6 separate regions of the Homo sapiens genome follow, and regions 1, 2, 3, 4 and 5 are each linked to region 6. Evidence: fine-mapped expression QTL. A gene starts in region 6. Each other region holds a variant in brackets. All regions are shown on one strand. Distances are from middle to middle.

What was found.
Region 1: its variant is fine-mapped to the expression of RYBP in whole blood (INTERVAL, PIP 0.97).
Region 2: its variant is fine-mapped to the expression of RYBP in unexposed skin (GTEx, PIP above 0.99). The same link has a PIP of 0.9 or more in sun-exposed skin.
Region 3: its variant is fine-mapped to the expression of RYBP in B cells (Fairfax 2012, PIP 0.95). The same link has a PIP of 0.9 or more in CD4 T cells, CD8 T cells, monocytes, monocytes after LPS, monocytes after interferon gamma and neutrophils.
Region 4: its variant is fine-mapped to the expression of RYBP in T cells (TOPMed, PIP above 0.99). The same link has a PIP of 0.9 or more in CD4 T cells, blood mononuclear cells, naive CD4 T cells and whole blood.
Region 5: its variant is fine-mapped to the expression of RYBP in esophagus mucosa (GTEx, PIP 0.97).

Annotation. Positions count from the first base shown.
Region 1 is chr3:72,407,161-72,412,468 of GRCh38, reverse strand. The region is part of intron 1 of RYBP (RING1 and YY1 binding protein); the gene reads left to right. Among named protein-coding and RNA genes, the nearest start is that of RYBP, 37 kb to the left of the region's middle. The variant A/GCA (reference allele first, on the strand shown) is at 2,841.
Region 2 is chr3:72,334,403-72,339,710 of GRCh38, reverse strand. No RefSeq gene overlaps it. Among named protein-coding and RNA genes, the nearest start is that of RYBP, 110 kb to the left of the region's middle. RefSeq lists a silencer at 201-310 and an enhancer at 4,202-4,768. The variant C/G (reference allele first, on the strand shown) is at 2,622.
Region 3 is chr3:72,374,021-72,379,328 of GRCh38, reverse strand. RYBP (RING1 and YY1 binding protein) reads left to right here. Exons shown (of 4, transcript NM_012234.7): 2 at 1-78; 3 at 191-289; 4 at 692-4,732. The coding sequence ends at 944. Among named protein-coding and RNA genes, the nearest start is that of RYBP, 70 kb to the left of the region's middle. The variant A/T (reference allele first, on the strand shown) is at 2,406.
Region 4 is chr3:72,342,467-72,347,774 of GRCh38, reverse strand. No RefSeq gene overlaps it. Among named protein-coding and RNA genes, the nearest start is that of RYBP, 100 kb to the left of the region's middle. The variant A/G (reference allele first, on the strand shown) is at 2,074.
Region 5 is chr3:72,508,404-72,513,711 of GRCh38, reverse strand. No RefSeq gene overlaps it. Among named protein-coding and RNA genes, the nearest start is that of RYBP, 64 kb to the right of the region's middle. The variant C/G (reference allele first, on the strand shown) is at 1,936.
Region 6 is chr3:72,444,348-72,449,655 of GRCh38, reverse strand. It overlaps RYBP (RING1 and YY1 binding protein), which reads left to right and starts at 3,033. Exons shown (of 4, transcript NM_012234.7): 1 at 3,033-3,160. The coding sequence starts at 3,033. RefSeq lists silencers at 2,187-2,596, 2,657-2,716.

The DNA.
Region 1 (5,308 bases), 37 kb after region 6:
GAGAAAGTGAGTGACTTGGAGTGCTGGTGGATTAACATATAAGCTCTGCTGCAAGATTATTCCCATCAGAGAATTAGTTGTGCCTTTTTGGAAGGTATCTCTTTTATTTTGTATTTTACACAGTTATGTGGAGATTGATGTAACATATGAAGCACCTGCTTCATGCAGACATTAACTTAACACAATGTTTTTCCAGCATAGTTGATGCACAGAAGTGCTAATATGGAAAATAAGGACGGTGTTTTAATAAGCATGTTATAATCTTTTAAACATACATTATCTTGGAGCTTGCCTGAAATGGATTTTGAGTGTTTTCAAGTCTTCTCTGGTGATGATAGGTACTACTGAGTTAACCACAGTCTTTTGGTTAGGCTACAGTTAGTTAGCAAAGAGCTACATGTAGCTATGTAGGTAGTCTGATTTTGTCCTCTTATCAAGCATAGCCTAATAAACTGAATGGATTGCCCAAGCTGATTTGGATGTTTTCCCTCAGTTACAAATCAGGAAGCATGTTTTGCAGGCTGTTGAAGAAATGTGGATAACAGGTGACTGGACTTGATTTCCTTCTTTAATTCTTCCCCAAGCATAACAAGTTTTGCCCTCATTAGCTGCATTTTCACTGTGTGGTTTAATTAGGTTTTCCTTACAAGATTCAGCACTAATTATGCTTTTTGCTTTTCTGTTTTTGAAGAGTATTCTTTGACACTTTTGTTTATTAGTGTCTTTGGGAGTGGGGAGGGAGGGCATTTGGGGAAGGAATGCTGATATGACTGGGAGACTTGTGCTACTACCTCAGCTCTAGGCTGCTCTACTTCATGTGGGCATAAAATGTGTATAAAAAGTTAAACCTGCTAACAAATAATGGAATCTCATTTGGTGCAATATAAAGGTAGTATCTCTTGTCTCTTATTCTCATCATTAGTATAGCTGCGAAAGAGGATTGTTTGGAACCCTTCTGAATCTTTCGAGTCTGATAAGAATAAACCAACTTTACTGTTCACCTCCCTGCAGATCGTGGCTGTTAGCACATCTAAGGTGCATCTGTAGTTCTTGTCACTGATGAAATGGCTTCATGGGATATGGGGGATCCTTTTTTTTCTTTTTTTAAACATTGGTTTCCATAGATAAACATTGAGATGGCTTCTTGTAACAGATTTATGAATTGGCTGACTCATCCTTAATCTTTGCTATTTGTTTGTTTACAATTTGTTCTCTGGGCTAAAGTTGATTTCTCTTTCTCCTTATATGTGTGTAAAATGTCCTTAGGTTTGTACTCTGAGATGTCTGTATGGTTTATAATATACTTTAAAATTTCTAAATAGCTTAGAGTAAAAGATAAGTAATTATTTGATAAGGCTTAACAGTTAAATTATTTGCACATTTTTATAGATTGTGGAAAATAGCGTACCTTACTTCTTTTGTAACCACAGTGAAAGTTCCTTACTGTTTACTAGCTTTCAGATAAGAGCACAAACCTCAGATAGAGTTCTGTGTGTTCAGTATTTGGGTAACTGCAAAGAGTTCTTATACCCATCAGCCTTTCTTAACCAGCTCTGAGAGAATTAGCCCTCCTGCTCCAAGACTTCCATTGTAGACAGTTACCTTTTCCCCTATGCATTCAAAATGGTACTAGTTGTAATAGATAGTTGGAAGAATTGAGAAAATAATCACTCATGTCATTTTTTGGGTGTTCTGTGGTTCAGACTGAGAAAGGCCATGGACCTAGAGAGTACACTGTGATATTATTTCTCATTCAGATTTACAAATGTAAAACAAAACTGCCTGCAGAGTTGTTCTTAGTACTTTAAGACATAACCTGGCATATGCTTTTGGCTTTTCAGTAACCCAAATAGTTAGTGAACCGCCTGTAGTCCTTTCTTTCACAGGCAGTAATGTGCTTTGGCTGCTCAAATTATTTGGAATTCCTGTACTTTTTATTTGTCTCTCACCTTACATAGGTTTTCTTCTCTGTTAGGGATGTTCCCTTTGTTCACCTAGTTCACTGAACTTGAAGAGTCACTTCCTTTGTGTAGCCCTTAGTCAACTGCCAGCACAAGGTTGGTATTCCCTCTTTTGTGCCGCAGTACCTGCACTTAAAATCATTATCTATCACATTTAAAAACAATATTTTACAGAATTGCCTCACCATTCCTATCTCTATCCATCCCTGGAGGGCAGGGACTGTTAGGTTTGTCAACACCTAATGTATGTTGGTTGAATGTTGAATGAGTTGTTGATACACGTTTGCTGTATAAGGTAGGCATTTTACAGTAAAGTTTTGCAGTATTAATAATGGCAGTGGCCGGGCACGACGGCTCATGTCTGTAATCCCAGCACTTTAGAAGGCTGAGGCAGGCGGATCACCTGAGTTCTGGAGTTCAAGACCAGCCTGGCATACATGTTGGTGAAACCCCGTCTCTACTAAAAATACAAAAAAAGTAGCCAGTTGTGGTGGCGGGTTCCTGTAGTCCCAGCAACTCAGGAGGCTGAGGCAGGAGAATCGCTTAAACCCGGGAGGTGGAGGTTGCAGTGAGCCAAGATGATGCCACTGCACTCCAGCCTAGGTGACAGGGGGAGAGTCCGTCTCAAAAAGCAACAAAAAACAAAAACCCAGAACGAAACATTCAAAGGGCACCAAACAGCGGAACACAAAGGTGAAGCTGGTTTTCCTTCTTTTGGAAACAGTTACTTGTTTTTGTTTTAATTATTTACTGAAGGATTTAGTCAGACTTTTAAGTTTGTTCTGTTACATTGAACATTGGTCATACTGTGAAGAAGGGTCACAATTGATAATGCTTATTACCTATTTTTAAAAGATCAACTGATGAATGAGTAGTGGC[A/GCA]GTGTATTGTGAAAGCTCTGAATTTGCAGAGGAAAGTAACAGTTGAATTTTCTTGAAAGTAAAACTAAGAACTGTGTGTAGTAATTTAACTTCCCACGTCAGTGAGTAATTTAACCATATTAACCACCCAAAGAAGTAATGAAAATAAAGCTTTTATTCAAATATTTGGCTGTACACATTATATCTGTTTTACATTTCAAAGCTACATTTATTGAATGGACAACACTTTTTTCTCTCACACTTCTTTACCTTCTGTAGAACAGATAGAGCGAGTCACTTAAGTTTTTAATTCCTACCTGCAAACCTTCTTCGTAATTACATTTATTTCTGAAATGCCTTACAGCATCTTGTCAGCTTCCTCCCCTCAGCCCCAGAGATTTAAATCAGGTAGATTCTTACGATATCAAGAAGTGTTCAGCTTCTTCTATAGAAAGTCATGATTTATTGCAACATACTGCTATAACTGCTTTGCCAGTTCATCCACTGTGAATCCACTGACTGTACTCTCTAGTGTGCATCTTAGTACATTTTGTGTTGCTGTAACAATACCTGAGACTGGATAATTTATAAAGAAAAGAATTTTATTTGGCTCATGATTCTGAGGTTGGAGAGTCCAACATTGGGCAGCCCCTTTGGTTGCGGGTCTTGTGCTCGCTCCTTCAGTTCATGGCAGAAAATGGAAGGAAGCCAGCATGTGCAAGAAGGAACAACCCACTCTTCGAGTAATGAATCCAATCCTGTGAGAGCAAGAACTCACTCCCACAAGATGGCATAGTCTATTTATTAGGTATCCCTCCCATGACCTAAACACCTCTGACTAGGCCCCACCCTCTAACACCGGCACATTGGAAATCAGATTTCAACATGAGTTTTGGTGGAGACAGACCACATCCAGACTATAGGCACATGCATCAAATATTTTTGCTTTGTATGCTCTGAATGTTTTTTGGTGTTCATAGGTTTAGCTCATAATCTCCAAAAGGGAAATTGTAATAACTTCTAACTTGCAATTGAACTCAAACCAGTATAAACAGGGTTATTACTTTAAAAAAAAGTTTTAGGAAGAAGTGGTAGTTTAGTATTTTAAGCTGTATCAATTGGATGAAATAAAGTGGAGGAAATGGTTTAGAAGTATTAAATTGCTGAGTTTATAGAAATAACTTATATGTACTGCATGAAAAGGAATGTATTTGAAAAAGATGCCTGATGTACGATAAAGCAATTTAGCATTATTTCAGCGCAGAGATTGATTTATAAGTTAATACTTTAATATAAAGTCATACCATTGCTTTAATGGTGATGGTGGAGCAGAACACATTTCTAAGAATTTACTGTTGTTAAAACAAAGATTTCTATTGGAAGACATATGTAAGTCATCCTTTTTTTCAAAGTGTAACTGTGTTTGGGAAGGAAATAAATATATGAATAAAATGTGTTTTAAATTATGTCATCAAAAGGTGGGATGTAATGTTCTTCGCAGATTTAAAGAAGCATTTCATGTATATTTGAACTTAGAAGTTTTGGAGACTGAAGGCATTTGCTAAGCATTGTTTTTCTGTTCATTCATTTAAGGCTCCGTATGGCATCTGTGTCAGGCTGACAAATTCACGTGTTACAGAGTTCAGTCAAGAGGCCAGGTGTGCAACTGTTAGCTAACAGGTGGTATAAGCGTTAAGATGCCCAATAACCTGTTCTCACATCTGTCTCTGTATACCGTGGTCAGTGAAGACTGTACAAGTGTAGCTGTGGAAAGTTTATGGACAGTAAGTGGGATAGGTGTTGAAAGACACTTCTGGCATTGATGGGAGACTGTTTCGGTGGAAAGTGACTTCAAACAATAGTGCCAGGATGGTGTAATTTACATTTGGCCCAGATTCACCTTAGTTCTTTGAGAGAACTAATTTTTCTCATTGTGGCAATTGTAATTGGCCCTCGGAATGGATCTGTTTTTAAAATAGTGAAGTGAACATTACATTGCATTTTTTACTTTTGAGATAAATTTTGGTAAACAAGTCTTGATTTTTTTCATGCGTAAAACTGCCTGCTTAATGGTTAAAGTCTCCTTATGCTTTAATGTAAACGTTTGTTATCAAAGATGTGCAACAGCCTGATAGCAAAAACAGATGCACAGATAAGCTCAAGTAACCAGTGAAATCTAAAACTATTCATAAGGTGAGTTTAGTTTTGAATTATTATATACACTAACCTGTGTATATAACCAGTATTGGGGGCAGAGTCCTATTGGTACAGATAATTAACACTGGCTATCAATTTTCCTATATAACAAAGCACAGGCTTTTTATCCAAGGTGTCTCTATTTGTATTTAGGCAATTTTAATAGCTAAGGAGTTGACCTATACGTGACTTGCATTTGAATTCTTAACTGTAATATGCCAGTAACTTTAGTAGTTTTGAATGCAGCTCCTCTCTTCGAGCCTCTTGGGACACTGCGTCTGTCCTTGTCTGTC
Region 2 (5,308 bases), 110 kb after region 6:
TTGGGAAGGGTAGGGACTGTGTTGACAGGCTACCTGGAGGCAGTTGGCCAGGAAAGTCAGTCAGTCTGCCCTTGTCTCACAGTCAGACTCCGAGACACAGCCAGGGCCACACAGTGAGGCATGGCCACGCACACCGTGAGTCCCAGGCACGGTCAGCTGGTCTGTTGGCCAGCCTCAAGCAGTCAGCCAGTTGGCACACTGGGCCAGTCAGGGAGTTAGCTGTTGTCTCACAGCCAGACTTGCCTATACGAGTCAGGGCCACCCAGTCAACGCCCACTCACATCAGGAGTTGCAGTCACAGCTGGTCAGTCAGACACCCAGCCAATCTCAGTCAGTTGGTCAGTCAATTAGTCATTGTCTCTTGGTCAGATTGTGTTACACAGTCAGACATGGCCGCTCACACAGTGAGTCACAGCCGTGGTCAGCAGGTCTCCTGCTGCCTGGTCAAACTCGATCTGTCAGCCCATCAATCAGTCAGTCAAGGCAGGGTTAGCCAGTCAGCCAGGAGTCATCAGTCACCCACATAGCCAATCAGATTCAGCCACCCAGTCAACACATTCAAGTCAGTCAATCCACAGGTTATTGTCTCACAGCCAGACTCAGTTACATTGTCACAGCCATCCAGTCAGACAAAGCCACTCACCACGAGTCACCCAGCTGTCTCTTGGCTGGCCTGTTCATCTCAGTCAGTCTCTGGCAGTTGAGTCAGCCAGAGTCAGTTTTCCATGACTAAGGCAGGTGGTCAGTCCACCCGGTCTGTCCTGTGAGTTGGGTGTAGTCAGTTTCATGGTTAGTCACAGGTAGCCGTAGGCTGTGCCACAGCCACAATGAAACACCAGGCAACCAGCCAGTCAGTTGATCTCAAAATGTCAGGCATGCAATCAAGGCGGTCAGTCAAGACGCAGGGGTCACAGTCAGACCCACGGTTACCAAGTCAGTCTGGAAGAGACAGCCAATCCCAGAGCCGGCTAGTCAGTCAGTCAAGATCATCACTGACGGCTATCAGTTAGGAGATCATAGTCATCCAGACATCCAGTCAGTCTGAATCAGCCTGCCAGTCACACTGACTCAGTTATTCCCTCAGTCAGCCAGGCAGGCAGTCACAATAGTCAGTCATAGTAAGCTGCCTAGTTATCCAGTCAGTTTGAATTAAACAACCAACCAGTCAACCATACACCAAACCCATTGTCATCAACTGGCCAGTCAGTCCATCATGCATGTGGTCAATGAGTTGGTCTCCTTGTCAACCTGTCTCCTCACCAGTCATGTTCAATCCACTGAATCCATCAGCCCAGTTGCAGTTGGCCCAGTCATAGTCACAAGCTCCCACAGTCCATGGCCTGGTCAGTCCAGATCACAGCCAGCCAGCTACAGTGAAACCCACAGTGACCATCAGTCAGTCAGTCAGTCAGTCAGTCAGTCAGTCAATCAATCATCTAACCTTGTCAACACCAAGGCCCTGACTGACTTCTTACAGTATCACATGAATCACTAGCGATCACTGACAGAAACCCTAGATCAAACCGAAAGCATGCCTTGACCCTCTTCAGCAATGTCCAGAATAAGTGGTCCCCAGTCAGCCAGCTACTCCTATTCATCAGGAAGGATAGGGGCAGGGGGAGGCAATTAAGTTGACATATGAGTTCAGGGGAACCCACTTGTCAGCCAGAGAGGCCATGGGGCTGACGGCCATGGAGAGAGGGCAGAAGACCCTTGGGACAGTTTTCCAGTCCACCACCTGGATGCCCCATGAGGGTTTTCTCAGAGCAGGGACCCCCAGTGCCCTTTCCAACACCCCTGCTGTCCCCAGGTAGGGGAGAGTGAGAGTATGAGATACCCCTGCAATCGCTGGCCTCCTCCTTTTGCCTCCCTCGCTTCCCCCTTCCTTTTCCTCCCTCTCCTCTTGCTCCTCCACTTCCTCGTCACTTCCGCCTTGCTCTACATAGGTGAACCTAACCCACCCACACTCAGATCCTGTCCTGGTGTTCCACAGTGCCAGTCCCTCCCCCCCACACACACACCACACAATCACAAACACTCCCACCACACACATACACACACCAGTCACAAACCACCACACATACCACACACATACCCACACACCACACACGTACACCCACACACCACATATACACACATACACACCCACACACATCACACACATACAGACCCACACCCACCACACATACACACACACCACACATACACAAACACTCCCCGCCACACACCAGACACCGTGTGCATGTGCACATACCACATGCATATACACACCCACACACACCACATACATCACATATGCCACACGTCACACACAGACACCACACTCACACATAGCCCTCGCACACCACACCCTCCCACGTGCACGTGCACTTACAACACAGGGCACACACACCACACATGCACACATGCATATACCACATGCACGTATGCACACCACGCACACACACACATACGCTACACAGACACGCACACACGCCCTGCTTCTTGGCTAGCCTCCTCGTTTTGGAACATCCTGTTCCAGGCAGCCTGGGAGAAGGCGCTCAGACACTCCTTGGGCCGGCCCCTCCCCCTCTGCTCCCAGGGTTTCCGCCTCCTGTCGCCGCCCTTGCTGGGGTAGGGGG[C/G]GGCCTCCTGGCATAAGCCCGAGCACAGTGTCCTCCTGGGTGTGGACTCTTTCTGCAGGAACTCCTCCTTCCAGCTCCTCTGGAGGAGAGGGATGAGCGGGGGAAGGCTGGGGACGGGAGGTGTCTTGCTCACTTCATTTCTCTGCCTGGGGGCCCCCCCCGCCGGCTTCCCTGGAGTCAAGCAGGGCTCCCCAGGCAATTCCGTTACCTGGGTGAACACTGGCAGGAGTCCAGCTCAGAGAAGCAGCTGGGAGTTCTAAGCCCGAGGGGAGAGCTGTTCATCTCAGGCTGACTGGGGCTGCTTTCTGCTCGAGCGGGCCACACTCTAGGCAGAGGTGCTCTCTGGACCTCTTTCTGGCACCTGGACTCCACCACTTACTAGCCTTGTGATCACATTGGGCACATTAATTGGGGTTTAGGAGCCTCAGCTTCCTCTTCTTTAAAATAGAGAGGATAACAGAGCCCACCTGCTTGGGTCTGGGTAATGATGAAACGAAGAACACGTGGAGAGGGCTCAGGGCAGCATCTGGTAGCTCCTGTGACTGCCGACTTGGGGCTCATTTGTTCCCACCAGGCAATTTGGTGGCCAGGCCACAGGGGGTTCTAGAAGCTTCTTTCCATGCCCCTTCTCTCACCTGGCTCCATGACCCCCTGCCCTATTGCAGCTTCCAGTCACCGAGGGCTCCTAAGTGCCCAATACCACGCTGGGTGCTCTGTTGACATTATCACCCTGCACCCTCACAGTAGCCCCATGATGTCGGTGCCCGTACTATACCCATTTTACAGAGGAATAAACTGAGGTTCTGGGAGTTAGAGTAATATGCCCAAAGCTGCAGGTAGTGAGTGGAAGAGCCAGAACTGGCTGACTTCCTGAGGCCCATAGGGTGGCATGGTACCTGCCCTGGTACTGAAAGCCACATGTGCATCTTTGGGGCCTTTGGGGAGGGTGGGGAGGTGTTTTCCATGCCCCAGTTATCCCAGGTTCCCAGCTTCTGCTCTATCTTGTACTGGTTACCTGACATGTTTGTTGACAACATTCATTGACTTTGCATTGGTGAAGAGTTGAGTGGATGTTGGTGGAAGCACAGGCACTCCAGAAGCTGGGGTGGGTGGGTGGAGGCACTCCTCAGACTAGGGAGGCCCCAGGGACACTTCCAAAGCTCTGGTTTGGCTGAGGAATTCATATCTGAAAGGAATGTATGAGAAGGCTTTGGGAAACACAGAGAAGCTATCTTTTATGGGCGTAGGGGAGGCCGCAGAAGAACAGCATCCAAATCTCCACATCATGTGGACCTTGCTGTCGATAACAGCAATCTTAATGACAATCTCTACAGGCCCTGGGCTCCTTAGGAGGTAGGAGGAGGGTGTCTTTATCCAGAAACCCTTTCTATTAACAGTAACAACATAAGGATTCCACCCAGTGCCTCTGGGGCTGGTGGCGAGAGGACTCCAGCTTGGGGCCACCCCCTAGGAGAGATTCCTGTGAGCAGCCCTCGAGGGCCTCGCAGTGATGCCCCCCAGCCTTCCAGCTTTCCCTCAACCCGCAGGTGGCTCTGCGAAGGCGTCTCTTTATTTGGAATTGCACTTGGCAGTGATGACACTTTTTGAAGGGCTGCAGGGTGGAAGTCGGCAGCAGAAGCCCTTAATTCCCAGACCCGAGGGGGCTTTGCAAAGACAGCTCCTCTCCTGCTGAGCACAAACCCACCATTTCTCTCACTTCCAGGCTCCAAGGAGGAGGGCCAGGCCACAGTGTGAAATGCTCTTAGAGGACACCCGCTGGGGTGACAAGGCTCAGAAGAAAAAGGCAGATGGCTCCCCACTGCCCTCGGATGACATCCAAACGGCCTGCCTGCTGAATTAACAAAGGCCATCCTCATCCTGCCTCCGGGCACTGCTCCAGCCCAGGCCTTTGCCACGCACACCATTCCAGCTACTGCCTGCGAGCTTCTCAGTCCTTACAGCAGGACTCCCGGAACCCCAAGCTGCCCCCTCTACAGAGAATATGCTTCCCTCCCATCATCTCTCAGCTAACTCCTATGCATCCTTCAGGACTTAGGCGTCACTTCCTCCAAGAAGCCTTCCCAGAATGCCTCTCCCCTAGCGTCTAGTAGCCTCAGGCGTTCTTTAGCTTGTACATTGCATTCTCCTGGTGTCTTCTCACTGTCTTCCTCTGTGCATGTCTGTCTCTGTCCATTTCCCCTTTGTATAAGGACACCAGTTATATTGGATTAGGGCCCATTCTAATCATTTTATGTTAACTCGATTACTTCCGTAAGAGCCTATCTCCAAATAAGGTCACATTCTGAGGTTCTGGAGTTTAGGAGTTCAACACATCTTTGAGAGAAAGAGCACAATTAAACCAGAACACTTGCTTCGTGACCTTAACTTCTAAGCTAAGTGTATTTCCTTAACTTCTCTGAGCCCTGCTTTTCTGTCTGTTAAATAGGGATTGTGAAAGGGAGAATTACCCCAGGATGCTGGGGACTTTGGCTCAAGACTGGGTTCCACTGAGCGGCTGTGTGACCTTGGGCAGCCCCTTATCCTCTCTGAATCAGTTATCTACTGCTGCAAACAGACCACCTCCAAGCTCAGTGGCTTACAACAACATCATATATTTTGTTCATAAATCTGCAATTTGGGCAGGGCATGGAGAGGAGGGCTTTTCTCAGTTCCCATGTGACAGAAGC
Region 3 (5,308 bases), 70 kb after region 6:
GCAGGACAAAGAGAAACCTGAGAAAGACAAGGAAATTAGTCCTAGTGTTACCAAGAAAAATACCAACAAGAAAACCAAGTAAGTTTCTGGTTAACTAAGTACAGGATATTACTTTGCAAGTGAATTCAAGATATCTTCTAAATGCCTGTTTTTTTTGTTTGTTTGTTTGTTTTGTATCTCCCTCATTTAGACCAAAGTCTGACATTCTGAAAGATCCTCCTAGTGAAGCAAACAGCATACAGTCTGCAAATGCTACAACAAAGACCAGCGAAACAAATCACACCTCAAGGTACTTGGAAACTAGAATGACATACTAAATCACTGCTCTGATTTACTTAATCGTAATCATGAATCCAGGGTGGTTTTGTGCCTTGGGTTTGTAGGCTAAGAAGGTGAAGAGCTAAGTATGGGTGGGGCTGGTGACTTTTTCTCTTTTTTAAATACTGTGGCCAGAACAGGAAACAGATAATAGTAATTTTACATTGGTCCCAAGCTTTGCTATCCGTGCTTGTTGGATTATTGCTAAAACTGAGTAGCACACTCTGTAGTCGGCTTTGGCATGTGTGGTAGGCAGTTCGGATTCATTGCCACAGTGTCATGAAGTCTTGTGCGTATTGATGATATTCTGCCAGAAGCTGTTTTTGATCCATAACTTACTTAATTGGCTCTTCCCCTGTGGTGTTGCTTCTAGGCCCCGGCTGAAAAACGTGGACAGGAGCACTGCACAGCAGTTGGCAGTAACTGTGGGCAACGTCACCGTCATTATCACAGACTTTAAGGAAAAGACTCGCTCCTCATCGACATCCTCATCCACAGTGACCTCCAGTGCAGGGTCAGAACAGCAGAACCAGAGCAGCTCGGGGTCAGAGAGCACAGACAAGGGCTCCTCCCGTTCCTCCACGCCAAAGGGCGACATGTCAGCAGTCAATGATGAATCTTTCTGAAATTGCACATGGAATTGTGAAAACTATGAATCAGGGTATGAAATTCAAAACCTCCACCTGCCCATGCTGCTTGCATCCCTGGAGAATCTTCTGTGGACATCGACCTCTTAGTGATGCTGCCAGGATAATTTCTGCTTGCCATGGGCATCTGGCCACCAAGGAATTTCGCACCCTGACGATTACTCTTGACACTTTTATGTATTCCATTGTTTTATATGATTTTCCTAACAATCATTTATAATTGGATGTGCTCCTGAATCTACTTTTTATAAAAAAAAAAAAATCTGCTGTGCACAATTTTCCATGTACATTACAACTGGTTTTTTGTTTTTGTTTTGTTGCCGGTGGGGAGGGCTGGGAGGGGGAGGGAACTTTTATTTATTGTGTTCACAAACTCCATCCTTTCAGCATATCCTTTTAAGTTTAGTTCTTTCTTCCAGTTATACTATGTACTATCAGTTTTGATATAACTATATATATATAAATATAAAATTATATATAAAGGGTTATTTGAAACCAATCCATGGCAACGCTGGTGCTTGATACACTGTGAAGTGAATACAACATTGAACAGTTACAGATCTGGGACAGTCCCTTCTATGAAAGTGCTGAAATTTAATTAAAATCAGTCTTATATGAAGTATGTTCCAATCCATGTGGGAACTTGACTCTCTCATCTGTCTAAAGAGTACTGGACGATATAAAAATATATATTTTTTAAACAATGTGATCTCAAATTTAAAGACTGCTCCAGATAGCCTGCATTTGCAATGGAATAACTGACAAATCACAAGTGGTTTAGTTGGGCAGGGCTTTGATCATTCAAAAGTAACTAAAGTAGCTCCAGAATGCCAAGTATTCGTGTAAATTACGGTTACATGTTATCATTTGCTGTTCTTACATAAGCACTCATGAAAATATGGTATTCTGTAACTTGAATTCCATCCATTTTCCAGACCTCTACTCATGTCTGAGGTAAATCTAGAAATTGTCTTAGTTTTAGGATTGAAACAGTCTATAAACTGTATTTTTGGTCCATCCAGGAAGCTAGTCCCTTGTTTCTCCTTTCTACATGACATTGCAGTGGTGGTTTCTGTAATTAAAATTTGTTTGCCTCATGTCCCTTTGTCTGATAAACCTTCACTCTACCGATTCAGTTGTGAGCATTCTTTTTTTCCTTCTCAAAACCTACTATGATTTGTTTTACTGAACAAAGGTTATCAACCACACATCCAGTCCTGACATGGAGCTTTTCAGTGTTTGGAGACATTTCTCAATCCCCTGCTGTGGTAGGAACTCCAGTGGTGAACGGCTTGCGCGCCTGCAGCCAGAGTTGCAGGGAAAGCTCGTACTTACTGCGAGCAGCATGTAATCTTTTTTCTTCCTGGACATAAAGATAGCTTGAGTAAACTGTTCTATTTCATTCTCTTCACTCTTTTTACTGTCTTGCAAAAAAAAAAA[A/T]AAAAAAAATAATCAAAGACCACTAATAAGATTCCACCTCTCCTTATTAAAATAATTTTTTAAAATTTTGTTTTGCTTTTGTTTGGATGTGGGGTCTCTCTTCTATTTGACTTTTACATTTAGATACAGAGTTTGTAGTACTTCAGAGACATTTCAAGCATGAGAATTTGAGGTTACCTCTCTTTATTTGACCTTTAGGGACTCACGGGAGGGCAGCCTGATTTGTAATGAAGCACCACATTTTGGTGTTAAAAACCTGGTTTGCTTAATAATAGCAGTAATTTCTGTCTGTGGAGGCAACAAATAAAAAAATTAACAGCTTGAATTGAGTAGCCAACAGGAAAGGTTCCTTTCACATTTACATTAAAACTATTCTGTAGTCACTAATGTACCATAATTTAAATTCTTTTCTCAAAGGTATAGATTATAAAGCAGTGCCATTTGTTGCTGTGGTCCTATTCTCAAATGCATGGACAATGTTCCCCCCTTTTTAAAATAATGCTTGTGTCTGGGATGCAAGCTTTGCTTATCTTTTTAAATACATTTTTAAAGTATTTATTAATGAACCAAAGGAAATCAGATGCTTTCTATAAGCATCAGAATATATAATACATAGTGATTTGACTATGAATTTTAAATCCACATTTTAATATTGGTGGGATATTGCAAAGACATTCCTTCTAAAGTTTTAATATTCCTTTTATTAAGGGTCTCAGGGAGGGTAAATTAGTCAGCCATATTTATTTTCCAGAGGTTTAAGAAATTGCTGTTTTTAACTTTTTGAAAAAACTTAAATGCCACCAAACTCATGTAGGTTGCACTGCTTATTGAACCAATAACTGTTGGTATGCACTTTGTTCAGACACACTGTGTACTTTTTCAAAAACTAGTTTCATGTAAAGTGATTGGACCCCATAGATTAGTGGAAAAAGCTGATTAACCAGCTACTCATAGGCTGCTAATTCATTCATGCCAATGTTTTGGTTTTTCAGTTTTGCCTCCGTGATAAATTAAAGAATGGGGAGGGGTGAAGGAAGGGGAAGAAGATTGCTTTAGAACAAGTGGCATGAAATTACCATCTTTGTAGAAACCGCAGCTAACAGTGGGAGTTATCTAAGCAATCAGATGTTACAGGGCCAGCCCTTTAGCTGCTGTGGTGTATTCTGTTGGGTAGTGAGGTAGTAGGTACTTTATAGACTTTTAATTTTGGAAATTGATGACATCCCTCAGGCATGTATTCTGGAAATGGAATTCCTGTAACTTCCTGTGTCTGCAGTATGCCCTACAATTAGTAGGCAGCGTGTAAAAACACTAGTGTAGATTATAAAGATATACATTAAAAGAGGACCAGAAATACTTGGTATTCAGTGGCACAGAAAGCAGGTTAAACAAACAAAAAGCACAGTGTTACGCTTGCAAGTTTCCATTTGTTTTAATACCACGCAATCTTTCACACTCGTGCGTGTGCGCGCACACAGAGCTTACCTGACTTGCTCTGCTTGAGTCATGCAGTTACAAAAAAAAAGACATCTTGACACCCACACAATATTCTAATCAAAACCTTTCAGTTTCAATCTGGATATTTAAAAACATTGGCAGAAGCTTCTGTGAGTTTAGTTCCACTAAGATGTTTCACCTGCCTTATCAAGACCATTCTCAGTCTACTTTTTTAAGCTACCGTATCTTAAATTATTGAAAATTTATTAATTGCTGAATATATAATAACCTTTGCTTGTATGTAACCGAAAATGGTTTAAGAGCCAACATTTAGAGTATGACAATGGAGCTGAACAGTTTTTAATGCGCAAGCAGTTCTGTTCTTGTGTATGACTTGTAACCTTAATTTACTGTGTAAAGATGGTTACATTATTTCCTTAGCTTTGTTTGTTGGAGACAAATAGAGAATGCTTGTTAAGTATGTCAAAACAATCTTATCTTGTGAATTTTTGTTAATGTATTATACGAGCTATATTTTTCATTTGCCCAGAAAGACAGCTTGTATAACGCTTTTGGAAGTTTCTGCTCTGTAATGTCTTTAGAGCTGACAGTCTGTTAGGTTTGTTTTTTTCTTCATGCTAAAGTGTCAGTTGGTGGTTTTGTGAACTGGTCAAAAATTCACAGGTCTTAAATGTTTTGGGGGAAATTTATATTGGACACTGCTCTTTGTCTAGCAAATAAAAGATGTTAATATATTCCTGTTACTGGCATGTGCACGACTATGTTATTAGAAGCCACTTTATCATTTTCCTGCTTTAAATAGAAATGTCTATTTATGAATTCTGCTTGTAGTTTTTTCACAAATAAAATAGTAAAATTTACATTGGAAATCTTTATTTTTGTGTGTATAGATTTTAGCCTTTAGAATAATAGTTAATTTTTAATCTGTGGAATATTTCCAATGTGAATAGGAAGCTCACTTTGTATTTTAGAACTTGTTTATCAGAAGCTGAAATAGCTGGGTATCTTAAGTACATACCTCAAAGATGCAAAAGGAGACATAATGGGGCAAAAGAATCACCAAAATTTGAAAGAAAATGAACTGTCTCCTAAGTGTAACCTTTGAGATAGATTGCAATGATGTAAAGGAAGGAAATGGGATTTAAGGAAAGAAAATGGAGATGATGCTAAAATATGCTAATTGAGGACTGAAAATCCTCAAAAGACAACCCCTGTTTCTGGCCAACTGGATTTAGGTCAACTATGTCTCAGAGATGTGAATAAAGTGTGTTACTAACCTAAAAGCCACACAAGCTCACTTATTGCCCCATGCGAGGGAGACTCCTGCCTGCTGCTGCAGGTGCTGAGGCATACCAGTCTATAACCTTCCAAAGAATTAAGAAACCACTTAAAACATGTCAAGATCCATCCCCGATTATTTTGTCCTGGGTCTGCACCTGAACTAG
Region 4 (5,308 bases), 100 kb after region 6:
CCCTCCCTGGGAGCACTGCCCCACGTGGGGGTCACAATCAGGGGACATACCAACCAAGGAAATTTTTTTTTTTTTGGAGACAGGGTCTTGCTCTGTTGCCAGGCTGGAGTGCAGTGGCATGAACATGGCTCACTGCAGCCTTGACCTCCTAGGTTCAAGTGACCCTCCCACCTTGACCTCCCAAAGTGCTGGGATTACAGGCATGAGCCATCATGACTGGCCCCAAGGAATATTTTTAATCTTCATAGCTATAGACAAGTCAGCAGCTATTCCCAGCCCCTTCTGCACGAGAATGCAAGCTCCACAAGGACGGGGTTTTTTTGTCTGCTTCATCCCTACTGTGTTTCCAGAGCCTTAAATACTGCCCCATTCACAGTCAGTGCTTCATAAATGTTTCGTTGACAGAATAAGAGGATGGAGTGAATGAATGCATGCGGTGCTGCTTCTCCCTCTGATAAGTGACATAAAGTTCTATTTGTAAATATTTTATATGGCTTTTTTTTTTGACATAGAGTCTCGCTCTGTTGCTCAGGCTGGAGTGTAGTGGCGCGACCTTGGCTCACTGCAACCTCAGCCTCCTGGGTTCAAGTGATTCTCGTGCCTCAGCCTCCTGAGTAGCAGGGATTACACTCAACAAATATTCATAGCCCCCACACCAGGCTAATTTTTTTAATTTTAGTAGAGGCTGCGTTTCACTATGTTGGCCAGGCTGGTCTCAAACTCCTGGCCTCAAGTGATCCGCTCATCTCGGCCTCCTAAAATGCTGGGATTACAGACATGAACCATGGCTCCCAGCCTGTAAATACATTTGAGTAAGAAAAAGTTAAGTCAGTTAGAAGGCAAATGCTAAGGGAAGAGCAGCAGGGTGGTGAGTGGAAGTAGAAACAGCAGTCAGGTGGGGCCGGGATGCTGGGATTTAGGCAATGTCGGGTGACTCAGCTCTGCTGTTCCTTCCAGCAGAAAATTCTGTGGTTCTCAGAAGCATGCTCTTCATGGGCTGAAGCAAGAGGTGAGTTCGCTCTTCCCCTGTGTATTCGTTTCCTGTAGCTGTCATAACAAATTAACTACAAACTGGTGGCTTACAACAACAGAAAAGTATTCTTTTACAGTTCTGGAGGCCGGAAGTCTGACCAAGTTGTCAGCAGGGCCACGCTCCCTTCGAAGGCGCTGGGGGAGAATGCTTCCCAGCCTCTTCCAGATTCTGGCTCCAGGCTTTCCATGGCTGTGGCCCCATCACTCCAATATATCTGCCTCTGTTTTCACATGGCCTTCTCCTCTGTGTTGGTATCTTCACCTCTTCCCTTTCTTAAAAGGATGCTTGTCATTGGATTTAAGACCCACACAGGTAATCTAAGATGATCTCATCTTGAGATCCTTAATTTAATTACATCTGCAAATACCTTTTTTCAAATGTAATCAGGTCACATTCACAGGCTTCAGGGGTTAGGACTTACACATGTCTTTTTGGTGGCCACCGTTCAACCCACTATACCTGGATCTGGTCCCTATTCGGCACCAATCCCTGTTCTGCAGTGCTGCCCTCTCCAGGGAAGCCTCGCTATGTCCTGAGGCCCCTTGGGGGATGAGGACTGGGGGCATCTTTGACGGGGCCCGGGTGTGGAGCAGCAAGAGTCTTTCTGGGGAAGCGGCTTGCTCCCAGGCAGCCATTGTGGGGGCCTGTTTGCTCTGGTCATCCATTTCTGAAGAAGGAGGAAAGGGGCTGAACTGGGAGGATTTGGTCCTCAGGGAATTTGTTGAGGGCGGAGGCCTGCTTATCCACCTCTTTGGAGTTATCTAGTTCCTCCGTAGACTTTGATGAATATTGCTTTCTGAATGCAGTGCGGGGAAGAAAGAGAGGAGAGGAGGGTCTGCATCAGGCATGTGACTTGGGAGTCCCATAGCCTGGATGCCAGTGCTGCATTCACTTGGCAGATATTCATAGATCACCTACTATGTGATAGAGCAGCAGGAACACAGCGCCAGGAGCTTGCAGCCCAGAGAGATTAGACAGATAAAACAATGACAAAAACTGTGATCACTGCTAGAAAGGAAATAGACTGGGTGTGGGGATGG[A/G]GAGTGTCAGGCAAAGCCTCTCAGAGGAAGTGGTATTTGAGCTGAGACCTAGAGCTGGAGGAAAAGCATTCCAGACAGAGGGAGCAGCATGCACAAAGGCCCTGAGGTTAGAAAGAGCCCAGCTCATAAATGGAAAAATGTCCAGTGCTGGAATGTACTCAGTGGGGGTGAGAGTGGGAGAGGTACTGAATCCTACTGGCCTCCTGGGCTGTGGGAAGGAATTTGGATTTTATTCAAAAGATTTTAAACACGTTGTGCCATGACTTGAGTCAGCATTTTTAAAGATCCCTTTGGGGACCGGCAGAGAATAAATTCTAGGGCAGTGGTCAGAAACCTTTCTCTCTAAAGGTGCAGATGGAAAATATTTTTGGCTTTTGGCCGGGCACTGTGGATCATGCCTGTAATACCCGCACTTTGGGAGGCCAAGGCGGGTGGATCACTTGAGCTCACGAGTTTGAGACTAGCCTGGGCAACCTGCATTTTTTGTCTCTAAAAAAATACAAAAATAAGCCAGACGTGGTGGTGAGTGCCTGTAGTCCCAGCTGCTCAGGAGGCTAAGGTGGGAGGATGGCTTGAGCCTTGGAAGCGAAGGTTGCAGTGAGCTGAGATCATGCCACTGCACTCCAGCCTGAGTGATAGAGCCAGACCTTGTCTCAATTAAAAAAGAAAGAAAGAAAATATTTTTGGCTTTGGGGGCCATATAGTCTCTGCGGTAACTACTCTGCTGTTGTAGCCCCAAAGCAGCCAGAGGTAATACATGAGCAACCAGGCATGGCTGTGTGCCAATAAAACTTTATAAAAACAGGCAGTGGCTGGCCTGGCCTGCGGGGCTGTGCTTTGCTGACCTCTGTTGTAAAGTGGAAATGAGAAGAGTCTTGTGGTCCAGGGCAAGTGACTTAACTCTGTGCCTCAGTTTTCTCATCTGTAGAACAGGCACATCTTACCTCATAGAGATGTTGTGAAATTTCTGAGTGTTAATAGAAATAAAGTTCTGAGCGCGGAGCCCTGGCCCGTAGTAGGTGGTCGACTCTCAGTGGCCATAACAACACTAGTGGCTGCACTAATTATTATTACATCCAGCTGGGATGATCATCACAATTATAAAGCAAAGACTTGGAGTGAGTATAGTTCACCAATGCTGGTCATTGTAGTACTTCAGTGGTGGGTTGGAATGTCTGTGTATGGAGTTGAATGAATCCTACAGTGACATGAATTAGAGCTTCCTCCTTGGGTGTGCCAACATATCTTCCTCAAATCTTGCTCAAAGGCAAGATTTGTCCTGAAACTTTATTCTTCAATGTAGCGTCTGCCACATCCTGTCTGCCAGCCCAAGTGGCCCTCCTGTCATCCTGTCCCCCTTTGGGGAATATCTTTCCAGCTGCAGCAGCTGCCCTAGGCTGTTCCTCTGGGTTGCATATGAGGTTTAATTAATCTTTGTTTACACCTTCTTCTTGCTTTTTTTCCTCTCCCAACACGGGGGGGTTTCAAGACTTCTCTTTCCAGTAACTTGGTAGGAAGGAAACTATAGAGAAGGATAAGGTTCAGTTTTTCTCAAAAATCTCACCTGGGGAAGGAAGAGGTAGGTACAGAAGAGAGACGTGGGTGGGGAAAATGTGGGTAGGTGTATGGGGGAGTCTAAGAGACCACATTTGTCTACATGTTCTGGCTGATTTAGAGGGCACAGCTCAGGCTGAAAGGCAGGAAGGGTAACCTGGGGCCTTTTCCTCACCTCTGTGTCCTCAGGGTCACTGTTATGTTCCCTGACCTCTGAGACCAGGTGCATCAGGGGAGGTGGGAGAGGCCTAGTCCTAAGGCATTTCTGGGTGGGACCGATCACAAAACCAAGAGGGACAGAGGCAAGAGGGATGGGCACAGAAGCAGGGAATGAGGCTAGGACTTTCGAGTAGAAAAATGGGGGTTCCTAAAGTTCACTGTCTCCTAAGCCTGCTCTCCCAGAGCAAAGACCTCCATGGTACAGTTTGGGAAGAAGGGGAACCTTGTTCAGAATTCTGTGTTCTTCCAGTTGAATATCCCACGGTTGGGTAAACGTTGTGAGTCTAGGAACTGCTACAAAATAGAAACAGACAGATAAGATAGATAGATGGGTGGGTGGATGGATGGATGGATGGGCAGAAGAATGGATAGACAGACAGAGAGATAGAAGATGGATGGATGGATGGCTAGACATATGATAGATGAATAGGTGAATAGATACATATAGAGCAGATCTTCTCTGTGCAATCAAGTGAGAGTCATTCATCATTTATTAACAAAGATTTCATGAGCACCAACTATGTGCCAACTATGTGTCTAGTACTGATTAGACAATGCCAAGTGAAACAGGTGGGCTCTCTGCTCTCGCAGTGCCCTCAGTCTCTTGTAAAATCTAATGCTCTGGGCCAAGAGAAACTATTACGATTTCTCTCAGTGTTATTTCTTAGTGTGAGTCACAGAGGAGCCCACATCCTCCACCAGGAGAAGGCAGAGGGAAGGGCCTGAAGGCCTGGTACCCACATAAGTAAATTTTAAGAGGCTGACAGGCGTCATTGAGCCAAACCATTAAGGCTTTGGAGTCAGGCCTACCTGGGTTCAAATCCCTGGTTTTGCCACTTTATAATTTGTGACCTTGGACAAGTCACATCCCCTCTCTGAGTTTCAGTAGCCCCATTTGTTCACTCATTATTTATTTTGAGTTCTTGCTAGATACTAGATACTGATTTAGGTGCTGAGGAGGCTGTAGTCAACAAGATAGATAAAGTCCCAGTCTTTCTGCAGTTTATAATATACCTGTGGGGAGACAGAAAATAAATAAAAACATCAATTTCTAATACACCAGTTCGTGATGAGTGGATGGAGAAAAGTCAAGCATGGGGCGAGGGGTTTCATATGAGCAGCTCCCTGACGGAGGCGAAGAAATGAGCCATGTGTATGTCTCGGGGAAAAGCATTTCGGGTGGAGGGAACAGCACACACAAAGGCCCTGAGGCAGGGGGCACTTTGCAGATGTGATTAAGCTCAGGATCTTGAGAAGAGACGATCGTCCAGGGGGGATCACGAAGGTCCTTCTAAGAAGGAGGCAGGAGACTGGAGGGACAGAAGGCAATGTGACAAGGGAAGCAAGAGGTTGGAGGGATCCGAGGAAGGGACCATGAGCCTGGGAACACAGGCAGCCTCCAGAAGTTGGAAGAGACAAAGGGGATGGTTTCTCCCCTGAGGCCTTCAGAAGGAAGACCTTC
Region 5 (5,308 bases), 64 kb before region 6:
AGTAGCTGGGTCCACAGGCATGTGCCACCATGCCCAGGTAATTTTTTGTAGAGATGGGGTTTTACCATATTGCCTAGGCTGGTCTTGAACTCCTGGGCTCAAGCCATCTGCTCACCTCAGCCTCCCAAAATGCTGGGATCACAGGCCTGAGCCACTGCATCCTGCCAGTTTGACTATTAACATAACAAGTATAGTGGATATTAGCTAGGCTTTGTGGCCACCTAGCAACTAGGACACCTTTCCAATATCTGTAGAATTTCTCTTCTTATGGGTCTGAACGTGCTTAAGCCAGAAACTCACTTAATGAGCTTCCCTTGTAACTAGGTGTATTAATCAGAGTTCTCCAGAGAAACAGAACCAATAGGATGTGTAGATAGAGAGAGGGAGAAATTTGTTTTAAGAAATTGGCCCACGCAATTACGGAGATCAGGAAGGAGAAAATGTTACGGTTCAAGTCCAAAGGCAGTCTTCTGGCAGAATTCCCTCTTGCTTGGAGGAGATCAGGTTTTGTTCAGTTATGGCCTCCAATTGGTTGGATGAGGCCTACCCACATTAGGGAGGGCAGTCTGCTTTACTCAAAGTACACTGATTTAAATGTTGATCTCCTTCAAAAACACCCTCACAAAAACATCCAGAATAATGGTTGACCAAATACCTGGGCACAATGACGCAGCCAAGTTGACACATAAAATGAACCATTGTACCAGGGAACAGATATATGACCAAATTCTTGTACAGGCTTTGGTTTAGAAGTAAGTGCCATGCGGAGTTCATTCTTTACAAGTGGTGGTGGTGGAGACATCCAGCTCACGGAAGCAAAATGGCAGCACTCTGTCACTAGAATATAGGGGGTCTGTGCCCAGCAATGGCAGCAGAAGGGTCTCCACTGGAAGAGTCATGGCTTTGTAGCTCCAAGCCTCATCCTTTAGTTCTCCCAGGAACTCAGTGAACTACGTAGATCCTTTAACACATTCCTTGTCTACTTAAACTAACTAGGGCAGATTCCGTTATTTGCAGCTAAGAACACTGAAATTCAATTAGCACTTTGTATTATCTATCATTGCATAACAAATGACCCCAGAACTTAATGACTTAAAATAATAATAAATATTTATCATGTCATTTTCTGTAAGTCAAGAATTTGGGATGAGCTTAGCTGGGTGGCCCGGCTCAGGGTCTCTCATGAGGTTGCACTCAGGGCTGCAATCATCTCAATGCTTGCCTGGGGCTGAAAGATCCCCCCCACACCCTGCTTTTTTTTTTTTTTTTTTTTGAGATGGAGTCTCAGTTTGTCGCCCAGGCTGGACTGCAGTGGCGAGATCTCAGTTCACCGCAACCTCTGCCTCCCAGGTTCAAGCGATTCCCCTGCCTCAGCCTCCTGAGTAGCTGAGATTACAAGCGCCACTACACCTGGCTAATTTTTGTATTTTTAGTAGGGACAGGGTCTCGCCATGTTGGCCAAGCTGGTCTCGAGCTCCTGACCTCAAATGATCTATCCACCTCCGCTTCCCAAAGTGCTGGGACTACCAGGCATGAGCCACTGTGCCTGGCCAGTTGGAGAATCCACTTTTAAGATGTTTTATTTATGACCAGCCAGCTGGTAAGGCAGGAGGCCTCAGTTCCTCTCATATGGGCTTCTCCATAGGGCTGCCTGAGTGTCTTAACAACACGGACACTGTCTTCCCCCAGAAAGAGTGATTCAAGAGAGAAAAATGGATGTCGCGATGCTTCTTATGACCTTATCTGTGCAAAATCACTTCCACTTCATTCCTGTTGTAACAAGAAAGTCACTGAGTCTAGCTCTTATTCAAAGGGAAGGAAATTCGTTTTCTACTTTTTGCAGGGAGGAATGTCAAGGGATTTGTGGCCCTTAGTGATCCCCAAGATGGCCCCTAGTGGTCCCCTTCTCCTGATAGACACACCTTTGTTTATTTC[C/G]CCCCTGTGCTGTATCACAGTTGGTCTGTGTGGCCAATGGCCTATAGAGAAGTGATGGTATGCCCCTCCAAAATTAAGTCATAAAAAGCTGCAACTTCTCTCTCTCTTTCCTGTCTCTGACCCTGTCCATCTGTGTGTCTGTCTGTTGGTCAGTCTATCTGTTTCTCCTCTCTGAGGGAAGCAAGCAACCATGTATAAGTACCTTATATAGTAGCTCATGCGGGAAGGAACTAAAGCTTCAGGCTAAGAGCCAGCAGGAAACTGAGGCCAGCCAATAAACACATGAGTGGTTTTGGAGGCAGCTCCTCCAGCCCCAGTTGAACGTTGCTAAGGCTGCAGCCTTGGCGGACAGTTTGGCTGCACCCTCATGAGAGCTCAGGAGACCTTACCACGCAGGTAAACTGCACCTGCATTCATGACCGTCAGAGCCTGTTTGAGATAATCAACATTTGTTACTTTGCATTGCTAAGTTTTGGGGTAAACTGTTACACAGAAATAGATAAATAATATAGCACCACACAGGTATTCCTTTTTTTTTTTTTTTTTTTTCAGAAGAAATCAAGCTGTGTGTATGCGCATGTGTGTGTATGTGAGTGTGTGTGTGTGCCCTGAGAAGGGAATGAGAGAATAAGATACAGATCTACCTAAGTCACCAACGGGAGACATGACCATCTTTCAGTTGTCATGGAGCAGTACTTTGCAGCTTTATGAATTTTCACTAAGTATCTAGAAATCCTCAACCAAATCTTAAATTGAAATTGTTCTTTTTTAAGGCTCCATGCTGCTGCCTACCAAGTTGTAAACTGCTACCATCTAGAAGGTGTCAAGCAAGGCCTGGAAAACCCCATAGGCAGGAGGGCTGGTTTGGGCATTAGGCTCTCGTGTCTGTTTAGGGACACTGTGTTTCAAAACTAGTAATGATTTGGTTTTTTGAATTCCTGTTAGCCTTATTACTTTAGAATGTCTGTAGTTGCAGACTATAGCTTGTGGGTTATTCAATCATGTTTTTAGCTGTAATTGCAAAAACAATTGTGCAAATCTATATTTTATCAGTTACCCAAAATAGCACAACATCCCTTTGCACAGTAAATGTTTGCTGAGCACCTACTGGGTGCCAGCACTGTCCTAGGCACTGGCACACTGGCTTTGAATGTCCCCAGCACTGCGAGAAGACAGCAGACACTATTATTGCAGTAGAAATGCAATTACAGGAAAACTAAAGCCCTCCTTCTCCACCTGGGGAAAAGCCAGCTGTCTGTCTCCTGAGGAGACCTGCTTGTGCATTCACCCAGGTCCAGGCTCTGGCCATAAACTTTTCAGGCTTAAGAATCCTGATTTGACAGCACACCAGGAACAGGTCTATGCCTGAGGGAAAATCCATTAACCATGCTCACGAGACTGTTGTATAAATCAGAAGGTCAGTTTCCTAAATTACAATGAAAATTCTATCCCAGCGACCTGAACACTCATGTTTGTATGACCAACCCCAACCTTCCTCCCTCCCATCCTCCATTGTCCCCAGCCTCTCCTCTTTATTTTCTTCCTTCCATTCTTGCTGCAACAAATACTTAGTAAGCATGTCTTATGAGCTTGGCACAGGGCTGAGTGCCGGAGGAACAATGGTGTCTGAGACAGAGTTCCTGCCCTCAGTTGGAGGGTGGAAGGAAGCCCTAATTAAAACATTCACACAGATAAATGCTGGGTCTCTTTTCTAAACTTTCATTGTCTCTGAGACTCTAACAAACATGGGGGACCTCGTCCTTAATAATGTGCATTCTCACATATACCCAACATTGCACACACAATTTCAGGAGTTCTCAGTCACCCTAAAACCCGTCCAGGCATATGGGGTATTGGCAGACCTACACGGGAAGGAGCCAAGTCATAACCAGAAGGTTGCTTCGAGATCGTGGAGTTGCAACAAGGGCATTGTGTAGGTGATTGACTGTTCAAGGACAATAGGCTAAGAGCTCCTTCAACATAGAAGGCCTTGTAGAAATGGTCTTCCCACTTGAGATATTCCATCCACTGGAGGCCTCCCCTCACCTGGACCAGTGCCCGAATGGAGTCGTGCCAACAATAACCTCTGCTCTGTCTCAGTGAACAAGGCTGACCAAACCCCATTTTGTTGACTAGTCAGTCTCTCTTGAGATAGGCCATCACCTTGATCCACTGAGAGTCACATGCGTCTCACCTTGGAGTGATGCAGTGACCTTCAGAGGACTTTGCATGTCTCAGCTCTGAGCCATCACAAATAGACGTAAAGCTTAACTTTGGTGGAGAGCCGTAGCTTCCTTACTTAAAGTTCTTGTAAGGTGTCTCATTCTGGCCCCTAGCAACTCTTAGCTGGATTTTCCTAGAGCATCCAGAAAACAATAAAAGACAGACAGACACCCAGCTGATCACAAACCCTCTCCAGCCCACATTTCTCCTCTCCACAACCTAGAGCAAGGGTTGGCAAACCGATTCTGTAAAGGACCACATAGTAAATATTTTAGCTGTCTTTTGAAACTACTTAACTCTGTTGTTATAGTGCAGAAAGCAGCATAGGTAATAAATACATACATGAATGAGTGTGGCTGTGTTCCAATAAAACCTTATTTACCAAACACAGTGGACTGGGCCGGAATGGGGCTGGGGACTGTGGTTTGCCAACCTTGGTCTGGAAGATTCTCCTCCTCCTGATGGATTCTCCCCAGTCCCCTGTTCTTCTCTGCTCTCCCTCGGTGATCTTTTTGAAGGATTCATTTCCACTGTATTTCTGAGGATTTAGACAGTCCTTCTTCTGAGGAACCAGCAAATGGAAGATTGCTTTAAGCTGGAAAAGATTAGATGTCCTGGGTGTTCAATCCTTCTTCCTGGTTTGCACAGTGTGGAGAAATGGATAGGAAAGAGACATCATCTAAACATGGGAAAACTTTTTCACAAGGTTAAGAGCACTTACTCTTAAGTCAGATAATAATAACAGTATTCTGAGCCAGATGGATGGTAAAAGAAAATAATAATAATAATAACAGCAATAAGAGCAACAACATAAATAACATTTATCGAACATTCGCCATGTGCTAAGCATTCTCCTGTTTTTGTATACTTTGTATTAGATGCTGGGTTTGTTTTCCTCTGCCACTATCTAGCTATGGGATGTCATCTAACCCCTCTAAGCCTCAGTTTCTCCTTCTGTTAGACAAGGGGTGTGGGGTCACTTGTAAAAAGCTCTTTTTTTGAGACGGAGTCTCGCCCTGTCGCCCAGGCTGGAGTGCGGTGGCTCCATCTTGGCTCACTGCAAGCTCCGCCTCCCGGGTTCACGCCATTCTCCTGCCTCAGCCTCCTGAGTAGCTGGGACTACAGGCGCCCGCCACCATGCCCGGCTATT
Region 6 (5,308 bases):
GTTTTTCTTAAACACATTTTTTTGATTTTTTGGTTTTTTTTTTTTTAGACGGAGTCCTGCTCTGTCGCCCAGGCTGGAGTGCAATGGTGCAATCTTGGCTCACTGCAACCTCCGTCTCCCTGGTTCCAACAATTCTCCTGCCTCAGCCTACCGAGTAGCTGGGATTACAGGCGCCCATCACCACGCCCGGCTATTTTTTTTTTATTTTTAGTAGAGACAGGGTTTCACCATGTTGGCCAGGCTGGTCTCGAACTCCTGACCTCAGGTGATCCACCCACTCGGCCTCCCAAACTGCTGGGATTACAGGTGTGAGCCACCGTGCCTGGCCCTTCTTAAACACATTTTTAAAAACTTTTTCTTTTTTGAAAAGATAACACAAGACAAAGATACAAAACGACATACTAAAACAGTCAACCTCCTATGGATAAATTACAGTGTATTTGCAATGGAATTCTACACACTTAAGCAAACAAAAATGAACTATTGATGTAGGCAACAACGTGGATGGATATCACAAATATGCTGAGCGAAAGGTGCCAGCCAGACACAAGAGTACAGACCATATGACCCCTGCATATGACCTTAAAGAACAGGCAAAACTAATCTTTGGTGACAGAAGTCGGAATTGTGGTTACCTAAGTGAGGGATGACTCATTGGGAGGATAAAATGTTTTATTGTTCTAATGGTGGAAAGAGGGGTGTAGATGTATGCACTAAGCTGCAGTGTGAAAATTTGTGTATTTTATTCTATGTATAGAATAATAACAAAGTCTCCTTTCCACTACTATGGCTCCCAGCTACCTCCCCGGAGGCCACTCTTCCAGTGAGGATTTCTTAGTGCCCCGTTTCTGTCACGACCTTCATGCCAGGGGCAGAGTCCTGGGAGCATGCCAGGGAGACACCAGAGGCCAAGGCTGCTCCATGGCGCAGCTGCACTGGGCCATGGCTTGTGTACGTACCCTTTGGCTTTCTACGGCCCTTTTACCCCTAGAACGCTATCCCTCTCTCTTCCTCTTCCTTCTTTCATCCCTCCCCTAAGGAGGCAGCTGTGGCATTGAGGCCTTGAGAGGTTGCTGACCCTTGCTAAACAGTGTTGCTTCTCCTGGCCCTCCTGGGTGCGCCTGCCTGGAGAGGACACTGCGTGCTGATCAAACTTATTGTTGACACATTCATTCTCTCTTTTATTCTCTCCCTTCTGATCCCTGGACTGATCTCTAGGAATTTCTGCTCCCTGGGTGCTCAGTCTCAGTGAGCTTCCCTGGTGGCAAGCCCTGATATGCTTCCCTTCCATGGGGCAGTCCTGATAACAACCTATTTTATATTTGCATATAAACCTGGCTGAGGGTCTGTCTTAACTCCAATCCCCCCACCCCCGGGCCCCAACTCCTAGCAGCATTCTAAGACTCCGTCCCTCCCCTAACCTGGGGCTTCAGCACAGCCGCGTCTGTGTCTTTTATCATCTGGGGTCGTCCTCCTACCAGATCTCCCTGCCTGAGGACAGAGGGTCCTGAGTCACGTTCAAGTCAATTTGGCAAGCGTTTTTGGAGCAGGGCAGAAAGTGAAGGGCACTACCCTGTTCCTCGACTTCAAAAATCGAACGCGGGGGAAATGGTGCACAATTCAGGCCCAGTTATAATAGCTCCTAATACCCAATATCTTGTTTTGGTCCTTCGTGAATACCAGGCATCCATCAGCGAACCTTCCATGCCTGATTTCTCCGAATATTCAAAACAACCCTGGGAGGATGAGCCCCATTTTGGAGATGAAGGAGCTGAGGCACGAGGTTTTAATGCGGGCATGTGGTCGCCAGAATTTGAATAGCAACTTCCCTAAGGAAACGCCCTATTTAGACTCTAGGGGAGAGGAGGATCCCAGGAGGAGTCCGCCAGCAGAAGCTCAGAGTCTGGCCTGGGGGCATTTAGTTATGCCACGCCCTTTCTCTACTGTTCCCTCCCGCGACAGGGGCCTGACAGGGAGTGGGGCTTCGGGCCAGCGTCTCGGCCGGACGCAGGGACTTCAGAAGAGGCAAATACAAAGCTCCGCATGGCAGAGGAACAGAGGGGCGCGGGGGAACGCGGTCCAAAGGTGGACCTTGTCGGCCCCTGGGCACTGCAAGCCTCGAGGCGCTGCGAGCGGTGAGGCTGTTGCAAGCTCCCGCGGCGCGCGCAAACTGCGTGGAACTACTTCCCCGGGGCGGCTTCGGGGCCGGGGTCCCGGCAACAGCCTCACGGGGCGCCGTGCGGGGCCCGAAGCCAGTTGCCAGCTCCCGGGCGCGGCCACGTGCGCCCCGCCGGGCTTGCACGCTCCGCCGCGCCGGGCCGCGGGGCCACCGACAGGCACGCGCGCCCCCAGCGCGCACACACTCCCGGGCACGCACACCGACCGCCCGGCCCACGTCCGCCACGCCCCGCCTTCCCCCGCGCCCCGCCTCCGCCCTCGCGGCGCCGGCCGCCGCCCTCCCATTGGCCGCACGGCGCGTGACGCGCGGCGCCAGGCCCCGCCCCTCGTCAGTCACTCGGCGGAGGCGGCGCTGGCGGGGACTAGTCTCGTCCGGAGACTGTGATGGATTTAACCAGGTGGGGAGGGAGGGAGGGCGCGAGCTTGGGAGTGGAGAGGGAAGGAGCCGGCCCACTCCCCGTCGCCGGCCTCGGGCTGCCCCTGCGCGCCCCCTCCAGATCCGGCCCGCGGCTCCCCTCCCGGCCCCCCCAGCCCCACGCTCAAGTCCACAAGTCCGCCCGCTTCCTGCGCCCGCCGCGGCCCTTCCCGGGGCGCCGCCGCCACCGCCTGGTGTGCGAGGCTATCCGGCCCGGGCCCGGGGCTTGCAGGGTGCCAGTGGGGGCGCCCGGTTCCCTTCCTCGCTCTCTCTTCCAGTCCCCGGAAAGGGTGGGTGGGTGGTCTCCCGAGCGAAGTTTCCAGCACTGGATTCCTGCGAAATTACGACGGCTCACCCGCGTCTGTGTTTTGCTGTCTCTCCCCCGTTTTCCTGCTCCCTGCCTCTTCCCTCCCTTTTCCCCCACTCTCCACTCCTCGGAAGGCCAAAAAGACAAGCGAAACCTGCCGCAGACGAAGGGTTTTGGGATTGTAGCGTCTGCACCTTCAGAAACAGTGCTGAAGCCTTTAAATGCAGCATCTGCGATGTGAGGAAAGGCACCTCCACCAGGTACTTGAAGATCTGTGTTACCTTTTGTTAAAGGACTTTTTTTTTTTTTTTTTAAGTGAGAGGGTAGTGAGCCTTACTTTCTGCCCTTTTTCCAACTTGTTGATTACGGCTTTTTTTGTATTTGCGGGTGGGTTGTGTGTGTTTTTGGGTTGAGTGTATTAAGTGTTGGGTGAAAAGCCTTGTGTTCGCTAAATGATTTATGGGAGGGAATTTTTCCAGGTTTTCATTTTATTTCAAACGGACACTGGATTTATTTGACACTTGTGTCTATTGGCTTATTGGTATTGGCTGGGGAAGAGAGGAAGCAGTACTATCGCTATGGATTGTAGGACATAGATGTTTTATATTTTTGCCATGTGTAGAATGGTTTTAATTTGCCTGTCCCGAGTTACTTTTCTCTTGTCTGAGAAATTTAGTGGGGGTAGTAAGGCTGGCTGTGCTTTTCCTGTCTTGAGCTGCAAATGTCTGTTACTTTCTTGCACTTGAAAATAAATGTCGGTATTTGATAAAGTAAGTGCATTTTGTGGGAGACTGAGCTGTCAGTTTTTTTTTTCTTTGACTAGCTTATGTGGGGTGGTGATGGGGGACGATTTTGTAAAATGGTGAAATGAGCAGTGACTGTGGAAGTTTGTGTTTAAAGCTCTGTGATGATGAAAAGAATGTTGAAAGAATTCCTTTTCATTTTGATGAAGGTCGTAAACTGCATGTGATGTTAAAACGAGTTAACTACTTTAGATTTAACATTCATAAATACTTGGATAAAATGTCAAGACTCATGTAGTCTTTTGGTCATCTTTTAATTTATGTCTGAATTTGTTTCATTGGCGTTAGAGTTTGAAGTTAAACTGTTCTTGGTGTCATTTAATGAACAGGCATTGGGTGTGTGTGTGAGACAAGAATGAGTTTTTGGTGGATCCTTTAGAACATTACAGTTGATTGCCAAAAGTCTCATTTTATCAGGTACTTATTTTTGAATTGGTGACATTTCAGTGTGACTGTGTAGTAGTACTTCACAGTTCCAACTGGATATTGTTCTTTGATTAGATGAATATGTCATGTTAAGGTTTCATTGGTTTATTTATACTTGGGATTAAATAGGATTATTGGGCAACCTAAAATAATCTAACTCTGAGATTAATTGGCCTAATTATTGTTTCTGTGAATTGCACTCTTTAAATGATGATACCTTTGAATAAAAATAATCAAAAACTAAAAATATTACTCCATACGTTGTTTTAAGAAATTTTTGTCGGTGTTTTGTATTATCATGGAATATATCTAAAGTAAAAAACACGCATCAGTAGTTTCATAGATTTTGTTTTGCTGTCTAAAATAGGGAATTCCATCAAATGGCATGAAAGTTTTTAGAAATGTATTTGTTATTTAAAGCAGTAGTGATTGTATATTATTTATGAGTAATGTTTTTTACATGTAGAAGCCCTCAGAGGCCAAACCTCTTTATTGTGGTTTTGCTTTGAGTGTTACCGTAGATGGTGTTCAAGTAAATGATTAGGAAACTCCTAAGAACTTGAGAACATTACTGGTGAAGAGAAACGTAAACCAAATTCAAAAGTTTATGTCTGATTTATCGCTGGGAATGATTATCTCATAATGAAGTGCATTTCAGCTTTTAACATGTATTTTAAAAAACCTTACTCATCAATTTTTCGGAAGCACATGGAAGGTGTTGACTTTTAAAAAAGGTATGTATGTATGTTTAAAGTTTTTTCAGAGCCGCAGATGACTGTTGAAACTTAGTTAAAACTACTGAATTATTTACAGTGAAAATATTTTAGAGTCTATTCAGGAACAGGGAAAGGCGTCTACTTTAAGGGTCTTCGAGTAATTTTCTGATGTCATTTAATAGAATTTGAATACAGATTTAACAGGTGTGAGGACTGAAAACTGTGTGCATTCATGACACTCTTAGCTGGCCACAGTTGGTTTCATTTTGGTTATTGTCAATATTTTGGTGTTTTAGATCTATTCAGAAGTCATCGTTGGTTGGAATGCAAATAACGTTTTGGTTTTCCTACATTATGAACAGGTTTTATGTGGAGAAGTGAGTTTGACAGGTTTTCATCCTATCCTGTCTTGTGTGTTAACTGTTGGTTAATCCCTTTGTGATACTGGTTACTGCCATGTTTT